Linked DNA regions of Homo sapiens: regions 2 and 3 are each linked to region 1. The links come from fine-mapping of genetic effects on gene expression. A gene starts in region 1. Each other region holds a variant in brackets. All regions are shown on one strand. Distances are between the middles of the regions.

Evidence for each region. PIP is the estimated chance that this variant, and not a neighbour inherited with it, causes the effect.
Region 2: its variant is the best candidate, but not a certain one, in a credible set for the expression of SACM1L in whole blood (INTERVAL, PIP 0.67).
Region 3: its variant is the best candidate, but not a certain one, in a credible set for the expression of SACM1L in whole blood (TOPMed, PIP 0.54).

Annotation. Positions count from the first base shown.
Region 1 is chr3:45,687,470-45,691,580 of GRCh38, reverse strand. It overlaps SACM1L (SAC1 like phosphatidylinositide phosphatase), which reads right to left and starts at 2,185. Exons shown (of 20, transcript NM_014016.5): 1 at 2,084-2,185. The coding sequence starts at 2,115. LIMD1-AS1 (LIMD1 antisense RNA 1) reads left to right here and starts at 2,699. Exons shown (of 3, transcript NR_033947.1): 1 at 2,699-3,205. TRR-ACG2-1 (tRNA-Arg (anticodon ACG) 2-1) reads left to right here and starts at 2,510; the gene lies at 2,510-2,582. RefSeq lists a silencer at 1,994-2,173 and enhancers at 2,204-2,493, 2,754-2,803, 3,314-3,383.
Region 2 is chr3:45,635,344-45,639,454 of GRCh38, reverse strand. LIMD1 (LIM domain containing 1) reads right to left here. Exons shown (of 8, transcript NM_014240.3): 2 at 3,204-3,305. Among named protein-coding and RNA genes, the nearest start is that of LIMD1, 43 kb to the right of the region's middle. RefSeq lists an enhancer at 104-398. The variant AT/T (reference allele first, on the strand shown) is at 1,706.
Region 3 is chr3:45,527,530-45,531,640 of GRCh38, reverse strand. All of the region lies in intron 20 of LARS2 (leucyl-tRNA synthetase 2, mitochondrial), which reads right to left. Among named protein-coding and RNA genes, the nearest start is that of LARS2-AS1, 20 kb to the right of the region's middle. The variant T/A (reference allele first, on the strand shown) is at 2,180.

The sequences.
Region 1 (4,111 bases):
AATAAATCCTTTTAGCAATCCTTTTGTAATAAAATAATCGAACTATCTCTTTTGCATGGATATTTCTTAAAACACATCTCCAGACACATTTTAAAAAATGGCTACTATCTCCTACCAATTCTTACACAGAAACCAATTTCACTTCTAAATGCATCCAAAAAAGAATACTCCTTAGGGCAGGAGCCACATTTGAAAACCTTCAACAGCAGCCTCAGAGCAGGAAGGGCCAAAAGGAAGGAATAAAAATGGAAACTCTAACTCATAAACCCCTTGGTAAAGAAAAAGGTGCAAAAAAGTTGTACCTTCACATTTACAGAAACACTCTAAACTTTTTTTTCAGGGGGAAAAAAAGCTAGGACTGACAAATGAGAGAATGACTTTCACATAACCCCAGTTTGACTTTATCACCCAAATAATTTAAGAGTTTCCACTTCTCACAAAAATCAATACAAAAACATCATTCTTACTACTTCAGGGACAAATTTCCTTTCTCTTTTATGTATGCGAGGATTTGGGTTTGTTTTAAGGTCTGAACTGGTTAAATTTAGTGTTCTGGCAGCTGAAAAACAATCATCATAATTCTCAAGTTCTCCATCCTATTCAATCTTTGCCACGCTAAGCTGCATGAAGCCATGGCTCCATATGGCTTAAACACATTTGAGACCTGGTGTAGGATCACATTAAACCCTTCAGTGCCTATCAGATACACAATAACCTAATTAGCTAGCAGAGCACATGTGACAGTGGCCTGGCCAGAAACGCAGTGGAAGACACTTCCTTCAACTCTTTCACCAAAGACGAGGTGAGCACTTTGCAAAGGGGAACTGGGAGAAAATAGGGAAAGGTGGAGAGGAAAATGTGGAGGGAAGTGTGCAGCTAGGGTTTTCAAAGAACATTACAGTAAACAGAAATGGCACCCACAGGGGGTGCACTGTAGAAAAAGCAATCATCTTTTTTGCAACACATACAATGTGGAATAGATGACCTCTCTGAATTTTGCACCTCTAACTTTCCACTGAACCTTTCAGAAAGTTACTAGTGAGGTTGAGGTCTGAGGAGCTTAAGTGCCCAAACCACATTTTGGTGTCATTTCCCTGCAAAAGAAATGCGGTATCTATGCCTAACTGCCAAGGTATTTTAGCTCATATACAGGGATAGATAAGCTTCTAAAAAATTACATTTGTTTCTCCTACCAGATATTCCCAGGCTGTGGCCACCAGATTTTCAAACAGCCTAGGGGTAAAGCATTAAACACGAAGTGAGTACAACAAAATTATTCACAGACAAGAAAAGTGTGGATGCTAATGGGTAACACTAAGGGAAATAAACACATGTTGTTTTTAATCCAAGACAAACCAAAACCCTTAAAAACACCTATTTTATAACTCTTAACAACCACAGCCTCTGTATCAAAGACTCAAGAACTTGGATTTACCGAAAAGTCAATTTGCAGTACCAAAATTACCGAGATTAGCCTCTGGCTGTCGACACTGACTTAAGAACCTGCTTTAGGCTGGAGCTGTTTAAAATTTAAACCAAAGTAAACTCCTTCAGGACCTTAAGACTACTGACTGTACTTTAAATTTTTTCTGCACACTGAAGAGGGGGCAGGCAGGCTTCGGTACCCAGATAGGCTGTAAGCAAAACAAAGATTTGTTGATTTGTGCGTAGACTCTAAATTGCTGCTGTAGGTCCGTTAAGTAAGAGAAAACTCTTTTTCTCTGTTAAGTCATACAGATAAATTTAGTCGGTAGCTCTGCATAGAAAGTGGGGACAAGCGTGCCCTGAAGGGCCGCATCATAACGCCGACCCCGGCTCGGTGGGGGCCAGTCGGCAGCTTCTCTCTTCAGCCGTGGGCGCTGGGGCCGAGCACGGTGGAGAAAGGCCGGCGAGCCGCTGGTTCCCGGCCTATGGCTACTCGGGCGAGGCCTAGGAGAGGCCGCGCCGGCTGAGGAAAACCGGTAAATGCGAGGAGCTCCCACACCCTATCTGCAATCCGGGACTCAGAAGCCCTCCCCGAGGCCAGGGCCCGCACCTGCCGCCCCGCCCGCCGCGCCTCAGGCCTCTGGCCCGTGGGACTCACAGCTTCAGCTGCTCGTAGGCCGCCGTCGCCATCCTGCACAACCACCTCCTTCCTTCTCTCTCCGCCCGCCCCGCCCCGCGCCGCCACCTCGGCTACAACTCTACCGGTCACCCTGGCACAGCGGCCGCAGCTCCCAGCCTCTTCCCACCCCTTTCCCCGCCCCGCAGGAGAGCCGGCCTGAACGGGAGGCGGTGGAGGACAAATTAGTGCGCAAGCAAGAGCACGCGAGAGATGCCGCCGACGCGGCGGGTTGGAGTGCGACGAAGAGCGCCGTGACGAAGCCGCTGCGGATTGGTGGGGCGCGTTTTGGGGAAAGGCAGAGCAGCGGGAGCGCGGCGCAAGGGCAAAATGGATCGTTGGTACCCGGAAGCCCGTTCAAACTGTATAAGGGTGATCAGCTATCACGGAGAAGGCTTTAGCAAGTCGGGGCCAGTGGCGCAATGGATAACGCGTCTGACTACGGATCAGAAGATTCTAGGTTCGACTCCTGGCTGGCTCGCGATGTCTGTTTTGCCACACTTGACCCATGTACTACTGGGTCTTGTAAAGATGTATATTCACAATGTGAAAGTATTACAAGACCTTGGAAAGGTGTATGGTTAGAATGTGAAAGTTAAATATCTGAAATTTTGATGCCGCTTTGCTCACAATGTCATCCTTTATCCTTTAAACCTGGAGTTGTCTGAGGTGGTTTGCAAACTGCAAAGCGCCCTGTTCCCAATGATGCACCTGAGAAGTCTGTAAATGGGGTAAATTTAGGCAAACACACCTGGAAAAGTGGCATTTTGGAGTGGGGAATGCTGTGGCCGGAGGTTAGCAACCGGATGATGCAAAAGCGTATTTAAGGCAGCAGTTCTGGCCTTTCCCCGCCACGGAGCAGAAGCCCCCATAGTGATGTGAGAAGCGGCGCTGTCCCAGTTTACTAGGATGGGATGGGCTTTGGATCTAACCAGCAGCGAAGAAAACCTGCGGTGCGGCTGCGCTCGGTAGTAGGGGTCCACAAAGCGTCAGAATCTGCAGCAGCCCCGGCCTTTGCGAGCTCCAGCTCCGAAGTCAACCCGGCCCCCAAATTCCACTGGGAAACCTTAAGACACCGGTGTTTTTACCGTAAGAAGACCTCAGGTAATCTAGTATATTACCCCTCATTGTATGGATGCGCGACTTGGACACCCGAGAAGGCGCGAAACGTCTGCGGCCTAAAGGGACTCGAACCGGGGGATTATATGAGTCATCGGACACTGTCCGTTAACCAATCACTCAATCGATCAATTAATTTCCGCAACATAACGTTTTCCCCTGATAAAATTATAGATTTTTAAAATATATAAAATTATTGGGAATATTAACGCGATTCCCACCCTAAATCATTACTATTATTTTTTTTTTCCTTAAAGCCTTTTTTTCTTCTATATTTTTTAACATGGGCATACTTGCACATGTGTTTTTCCAAATTGGGGTTGTACGGAAATGGGTTCCTCATTTTGTCTCCTTACCTTTTTGTCTGAGATTTAAGGTCATTAAATATTCTTTGAAGATATTTCATCAGAGAGCTAGATATTTTAAGCAGAATCCTTATGCTGGGAATTTGGGTGGTTGTCAGTTTAACACCTAGAAAAAATGATGCTGCTTAGGAGTTCGAGACCAGCCTGGGCAACATAGCAAGACCTCATCTCTATTTACTAAATAAATAAATAAATTTTAATTAGCCAGGTGTGGTGGTGTGCACCTATAGTCCTAGCTACTCAGGAGGCTGAGGTGGGAGGATCACCTCAGCCCAGGAGGTTGAGGCTGCAGTGAGCTGTTACCATGCCACTGCACTCCAGCCTGAGCAACAGAATGAGACCCTGTGTTGAATTATTATTATTTTGAGACGGAGTCTCGCTCTGTCACCCAGGCTGGAGTGCAGTGGCGTGATCTCGGCTTACTGCAGTCTCTGCCTCCCGGGTTCAAGCAATTCTCCTGCTTCAGCCTCCCAAGTAACTGGGACTACAGGTGTGTGCCACCACGCCCGACTAATTTTTTGTATTT
Region 2 (4,111 bases), 52 kb after region 1:
GAGAAATACATTTCTATTGTTTATAAGCCAACCAGTGTATGGTACTTTGTTATAACAGTCCAAACAGACTAAGACGCTCATCAATTGGTTTTCCCTCACCAACAGCTTCCCTAATTCAAATGGTAACTGCTTGAGGTGGAAAACAGCCTCTCCTTAATATTTATTTTCTTTTTCCTGAAAAATAGAGCAAGTATTGAGAAACTGTTGTAGGAGTCAAAGGTCAAAGATAAATTGTAAACAAAGATCTGATACAAGCAGCCAACAAACATGAAAAAAATGCTCAAGGGTCAGGTGTGGTGGCTTATGCCAGTAATCCCAGCCCTGTGGGAGGCTGAGGTGGGAGGGTCACCAGAAGTCAGGAGCTCAAGACCAGCCTAGGCAACACAGCGAGACCTCTGTCTCTACAAAAATTTTAAACCATTAGCTGGGCATGGTGGCACATGCCCGCAGTCCCAGCTACTCAGAAGCTAAGGCAGAAGGGTTGCTTGAGTTCAAGGCTGCAGTGAGCTACAATTACATCATGGCACTCCAGCCTGGATGACACAGTGAGACCCCATCTCAAAACAAAACAAACCTCCACATCATTATCATCAAAGAAATGCAAATCAAAACCACAAAATGGCCATTATTAAAAAGTCAAAAAGTAGATGTTGGCAAGGCTATAGAGAAAAGGCAATGCTTATACACAGTTGGTGGGAGTGTAAATTAGTTCAGCCACTGTGGAAAACAGTTAGGAGATTTCTCAAAGAACTAAAAATAGAGCTACCATTTGACCCAGTAATCCCATTACTGGATATATATGCAAAGAAAAGTACATCTTCTACCAAAGATACCTGCACTCGTATGTTTATCACCACACTATTCACAATAGCAAAGACATGGAATCAACCTAGGTGCCCATCAGCAGTAACTGAATAAAGAAAATGTGGTACATATACACCATGGAATACTACACAGCCATAAAAAAGTGACATCATGTCCTTTGCAGCAACATAGAAACACAAGAAACAGAAAACCAAATAGCTGAAAAACTTTCTACTGGGTACTATGTTCACTGTGTGGGTGACAGGACCAATAGAAGCTCAAACTTCAGATTCACACAATATACCTTTGTAACAAACCTGCACGTCTTGAATCTAAAACTAAAATTAAAATTTAACTAACTAAATAAATAAATAAAGGGGGGCCTAAACACAACTCCCATATGGATAAAACACAAACATGTGCCAAAGACTTTATTTAACTCATCAATTAATAAAGGAACCAATTAATGGGTTTAATGGGGAGAATTCAAAGAACCATAGGCCATCAGGAATGTTGAAATCAATTTGCTAAATAGATTGCAAAACTGGTCAATCTCCACAGGGTAACAATCATCAACTGCACCTCACCAGACAGTCTGCATTGCTATAGACAAGAATGTGTTGTACCATCAATATTCTACAACTTACAGAGTGCAACATAGCTCAAAGACAAGGAAAGGCACAGAGACCCAGAGAATTCGATAACCAGACCACTCCTAGATTTCCACTGCGGACATTCTCATAGTCTTTCCCTACACAGGTGAACACTGATCAATGTGTAAACCATAAACTCTCAGGCATGTGTTCTAAGGCAAATTGCAGTGAGGACTGAAGCATGAGGTTCAGAACTCAGGCCTGGACCATCAAGGCTCAGCAGGTTAGGAGGCCACTGGTTAACCACA[AT/T]GCACTGGTTAACTTTATACTGGGAATTAGGATCTCTGGCTGTGAGCAAGTTCTTCCCCTTCCCTTCTCCAGAAGGATTCAAAATGAGGATCCCCAAACCAATGGTAGTCAGCCCTGATCACACCCTGGAAGTATCTGAGAAGCTGTGAAAAAATACACTTGCCCCACTTGGGCGGGCGCAGTGGCTCACGCCTGTAATCCCAGCACTTTGGGAGGCCGAGGTGGGTGGATCACAAGGTCAAGAGATCGAGACAATCCTGGCCAACATGGTGAAACCCCGTCTCTACTAAAAATACAAAAATTAGCTGGGCGTGCTGGTGCACATCTGTAGTCCCAGCTACTCGGGAGGCTGTAGCAAAAGAATCGCTTGAACCCAGGAGGCGGAGGTTGCAGTGAGCTGAGATAGCACCACTGCACTCCAGCCTGGGTGACAAAGCGAGACTCCGTCTCAAAAAAAAAAAAAAAATTAATACACTTGCCTCACTCTAGAAATTCCAAGGGTGATGCCCTGGCCCCACCCTTGATTAGCAGAATCAGATTGAGGTTCCTAGCTAATCCTATCAGATTAGGATTTAGCTCTGATTCTGATTAGCAGGGTTTTAAAGTCTCCACAGGTGATTCTAATGAGCAGCCAGGATTGCAAACCACGGGGCCAGATGGTTAGAAAGACCCCTTTGTTCCTGACACCCTGTGACTCTGCTGTAACATTCCCTTTTAGTTGAGAGCTGTTAGCCTCAGTATAGGATTGAGAATATAAGTAGGACATTTTCCAAAAATACTCCTCAAAATTAATCTTTGATAGAGACAGAAAACAAGCAAAATCCATAACTTGGTCAGACTTGGCAAGCATGCAATGTGTTAGAATCTTCCACGGGGAGCGGTTGCCATCCATTCAATCCAGACTCCTGATGGGCTGCTTGAATTATAATGCATGTACTGGAGTACAAAGATGCCCACAGGTGTGTGCTAGGTAGGCACCAGCACATGGGTGGCATGCACACACACCTCATGCTCATACAGCAGCCTCCAAATCAAAGATTAGGTTAGGGAGGTGGTTACAGAGTAATAAAGGACCCCCACCTCCACCTCACACTGGGGTAGCTGACTGACTAATCACTTTTGGTTGGCTGGTCCCCACAGTGGGGGAGAGAACTGACAAACAGGGTAGACATGGTGAATCCCAGCACTTCCTCCCAAATCTTCTGAAACCTCTTCTTACATATTTCAAACCTGATGTGATTAGGGATCACTCTGAACTCATTCAACTTATCACCAGAATCACAGGCAATCTTTGGTATTGTGTTAAGTCACCGTGCCCTGATGGGCTTCTGTTGGTGGTAAGAAACCCTGCTGTAAAAGACACTGTCTGGCTTTTCTGTGGGGCTGAGGAGGGCCATGGACCAACCGTCTCCAGAAAGATGATCTCTCTCCTCCCTTTCTCGGTTCCCATGTTCCTTACGCATCCCCCACACACCCGACACCCACACCCACACTTACTGCAAGCTGCACAGGTGAAGCATGTGTCATGGTAGAGGTTCCCCATGGCCTGACAGGCCTGGCCAGCCCCAAACACCCCTTTGCTGCATTTCACACAGGCTCCTTGCAGGACAAGAGAAACATCAGTGAGTCAGGAGGGAACCAGTGTAAACTGAGTCATAAAAAAGCCAATGAACAAAGCATAATACCATCCCTCCCCATGGCCAGCCCACCACCAAATCCAGTGGATGACTCATTTGAAGTGTCTTTCTCTCCCTCTCCCTCTGTCACTCTTTCAACTGCAGAAAACAGCTACCAGGCTGGACTTTAGGTCCCACTTTCCCTGCCCCACTGTTATGCTAATGTCCAGAATTCCTGGGCTTGGTCAACTCCCTCCCTCACCCCACCCAAAGCTTTCGAAGGTTCCCACTGTTTGTAAGACAGTTCAGAAAGATTGCACCATCACTATAATATGCCAAGCATGCAGGTTGGGAAATTTCTTTTTTCCTCCCTTTTTTTTTTTTTTTTTTTTTTTTTTTTGAGACGGGGATCTTGATATGTTGCCCAGACTGGTCTTGAACTCCTAGGCTCAAGCAATCCTCCCGCCTCGGCCTCCTAAAGTGCTAGGATTACAGGTGTGAGCCACCATGCCTGGCCAGACAATTCCAACTAAATTATTTCCTTTAATTTTCAGTGGGAACCACCAACTAGGATTTAGTAACCTCAATTTTTACAAAAAGTATATCACACCCCAAGCCCTGGGTTTGTCAGACTGCAAGCAAGTGCTCTTCCCTGCCCTTCTACCAGCAGCTCCTCACCCCCTAACAAGTCCCACAGGGTCTTAGCCCAGCCTTTGCTGATGGGCCCCTACCTAGTACATTCTACTCCTGCCCTTCTGTTCACTCAAGTCCTGAGGCTTTCATCTCAGC
Region 3 (4,111 bases), 160 kb after region 1:
AGGCCAAGGAGGGAGGACTGCTTGAGCCCAGGAGCTCAGGACTAGCCTGGGCAACACAGTGAGACACCATCTCTATAAAAAGAAAAAATACAAAAATTAGCCGGGCGTAGGGGCATGTGCTTACAGTCCCAGCTACTTGGGAGGCTGAGGCACGAGGTCTGCTTGAGCCCAGGAGGTCAAGGCTGCAATAAGCCCAGATTGTGCCTCTGTACTCCAGCCTGGACAACAGAGTGAGACCCTGCCTCAAAAAATAAAAATAAATTTAAAAAAATTTAAAAGATTTAAAAAATCAATTATACTAAGAAAATAATGAGTTATTTTCCTCATATATTCCAGAGGATTCATGTTACTTGGATTAATCTATTAGATTAATAGATTAATTCTTTCTTATAGTTTTTTATCAGTCTACATATATTTTTCTTAACTGATCAGATTTCCATGGTATTAACCTTTATTTGACAACATTAAGAAGACTATCAACTCACAATAAATCTTAACTGAAATAAAACAAATGTTGGTGTCAATGTGGTTTTACAGAAGAAAAATATGCCAGCCATTATCAGTCAGAAAATATAGCAGAAAGAGATTCTATTCTACAAGAACACAAAAGAAAAGAAAATACTTGAGACAGACCATGAGCTAGGATGAAAGTTTGGATGAGGTAAAGATGTGAAACCTTCCTGAATTAATTCTAAGTTTAACCACATTTCAATTGAAATGTCATGGTGATTTTGGGGAAACTTAACAAATTATGCAGAGTTTTGCTGAGAAAAATAAACAGGTGAGAAGAGGTAAAATAATTATAAGAAAAGAAATGAAGAAAGGCTAGTCTGCCAGGTGTTAAAACTGTCTGTAAAAATGCAATAGTTAAATCATTGAAGCACAATGTACAATTCAAAAACAGATCCTAGAGTGGAAGATGGAATAACTTCTTAGGAAAATAATTTGTTAATATATATCAAGAGTCTTAAATAGATTCATATCTTTTCCACTTCAAGGAAATAATATGAAGTGAGAACAAGATTTATGCACAGAATTGTCCATGGTGGATTGTTTATGGGAGTGAAATGTTAGACACACTAAGTCATGGCACACATGGACAATTAATGCAGTTTTTTTTTTGAGACGGAGTCTTGCTCTGTCACCAGGTGGGAGCGTAGTGGTGCGATCTTGGCTCACTGCTACCTCTAGCTCCCGGGTTCAAGCAACTCTCCTGCCTCAGCCTCCTGAGTATGTGACTTCACAGGCACATGCCACCATGCCCAGCTAATTTTTGTATTTTTAATAGAGATGGGGTTTCACCATGTTGGCCAAGATGGTCTTGATCTTTGACCTCATGATCCGCCCGCCTCGGCCTCCCATAGTGCTGGGATTACAGGCGTGAGCCACAGCGCCCAGCCTAATGTGGTTATTTTAAAAGTTTATATGTTAAAAAAACAAAAACAAACAAGCAAACAAACAAAAAACTCCAAATATCATATTCTTAAATATCATATTGTTAAACTGGAAATACTGAGAATTTAATTTTTTGCTAACCTGAGAAACCGACCTAAGCCCAGTGTAAAGCAAAGATGGTCAAACTGTTGCTCTGTGTTCTGACTGACTCTCTGAAGTCGTGTTTTGACTGACTCTCTGAAGTCTGTCCAGACAGGATGCACTAGGGCTCTGATGCTGACACCACCACCACAGCCTGCTGCTTGAGCTCCTCTAAGACATATCTCCTCGCTCTGGGCCCAGGTGTATGGGCCCCTGTTACCCATCCTCACAGCTGCAAAGGTGTGAGCAATCACTCAGGATTTCAAAGACATGGGATGGGCCCAGGTTGGGCTACTCCAGTTTGCAGAATGGGTTTATCACAAAGGGATTGAAAAGTCCATATTTAACATCTGGAATCATAATATCTGCTCATGTTTCTGTTCAGGCATATTCACAGAAGACCCAGAGAATTTCTGGAATTTGATTTGAGAGTGTGCATCAAAAGCCTTAATCTTTTGTATCTCTTCTGACCAAGCAATTACAGTTAGTTATGTGTTCTTAGGAAATAATTTTGCACGTAAACATTAGCTATTTAGCATTTTTTTTTTTTTTTTGGAGATGGAGTTTCGCTCTCATTGCCCAGGATGGAGTGCAATGGCGCAATCTCAGCCCACCGCAACCTCTGCCTCCTGGGTTCAAGCGA[T/A]TCTCCTGCCTCAGCCTCCTGAGTAGCTGGGATTACAGGCATGCGCCACCACGCCCGGCTAATTTTGTATTTTTAGTAGAGCCTGACGGCTGGTCTCGAACTCCCGACCTCAGGTGATCAGCCCACCTCAGCCTCCCAAAGTGCTGAAATTACAGGTGTGAGCTACCGTGCCCGGCGGCTACTTAGCTTTTAAAAAAATAATGTATAACTATAAACAGTTTGAATGTTCAATGATAGGGAGTGCGTAAATTCAAACAATGGAAAACTGTATGACCATTAAAAATGATGTTGTAGGCCGGGCGCGGTGACTCACATCTGCAATCCCAGCACTTTGGGAGGCCGAGGCAGGCAGATCCCCTGAGGTCAGAAGTTTTGAGACCAGACTGGCAACACGGTGAAACCCTGTCTCTACCAAAAATACAAAAATTAGCCAGGCGTGGTGGCAGGTGCCTGTAATCCCAGCTACTTGGGAGGCTGAGGCAGGAGAATCTCTTGAACCTGGGAGGGGAAGTTGCAGTGAGTGGAGATTGTACTACTGCATTCCAGCCTAGGCAACAGAGTGAGACTCCATCTCCAAAAAAAAAAAAAGATGTTGTAGAAAAGTATTTAATGGCCCATAAATATATGTTCATGGAATATTTAAGTGAGTAAATCAGGTTATAAGATGACCTCTCGCTTAACAATAAAACAAGTCATCAATAAAAGGGAATGAACTACTATAAACAGAACATGGATTAATCTCAAAAGCATTATGCTAAATGAAATAAAACAGAAATGACTACACATTGTATGATTTCATTTATATAACATTTCTGGAAAAGGCAAAACTACAGAGACAGAAAGATTAGTCATGCTGGGGGTTGGAGTGGGTGTGGGATTGACTAATGGTGTGGGGAACCTTTTTTCAGTAATGGAAATCCAGTTCTAAAACTGATCATGGTGATGGGTGCACAAGTATATAAATTTACTTAAAACACTGAGTATATACTTAAAATGGGTAAATTTTAGGGTATTTAAATTTTATAAAGAGACATGACAAAACACAACACAACACAGACAAGTGGACACAAAATACAATACACATAGGTAAGTGAACACAATCATTTTACTTTTTCTATGTTTTGTGAGACAGGCTCTTGCTCTGTCAGCCAGGCTGGAGTACAGTGGCATGATTATGGCTCACTGCAGCCGTGAACTCCTGGGCTCAAGTGATCCTCCCACCTCAGCCTCCCGAGTAGCTGAGCCTACAGACACATGCCACCACATCCAGATAATTTTAAAATTTTTTGTAGAGATGGGGTCTCCCTATGTTGCCCAAGCTGGTCTTGAACTCTTGGGCTCAAGTGATCCTCCTGCCTGGGCCTTCCAAAGTGCTGGGATTACAAGCGTGAGCCACTGCACCCAGCCACCATATCCACTGCAATGATCTGCGCTAAGATGCTGATGGTGGCTGTTTATTTCTAGAGGGTGATGGTTAGGGGATTTTTATTCTCAGTCCTTATCATCTGGGAACTGGTCTGACAATTATAGCTAGGCCTCAGTGTTATAAGAAATTCACCAGTTGTGCATAGCTAGGCCATATTATTCTCCTGTTCAACACAAATGATCTCACTGAACACCAACATCAGACAGTCACACTGAAAACATAAAAGGAGACCAAAACAAGACCATGTCATAATTTTGTCAAAGCACAAAGACAAGGTCACTGTGAAACACACAAAATATCAAACATCCCCTTCTCTAGGCAGATATGAGGGACTGCTATTTCTTTACTAATTACAACTTTATCCTTGCTCAGGTGTATCTCCCTAAAGATAAGATTTCTTTTTTTTTTTTTTGAGACGGAGTCTCGCTCTGTCGCCCAGGCTGGAGTGCAGTGGTGTGATCTCGGCTCACTGCAAGCTCCACCTCCTGGGTTCATGCCATTCTCCT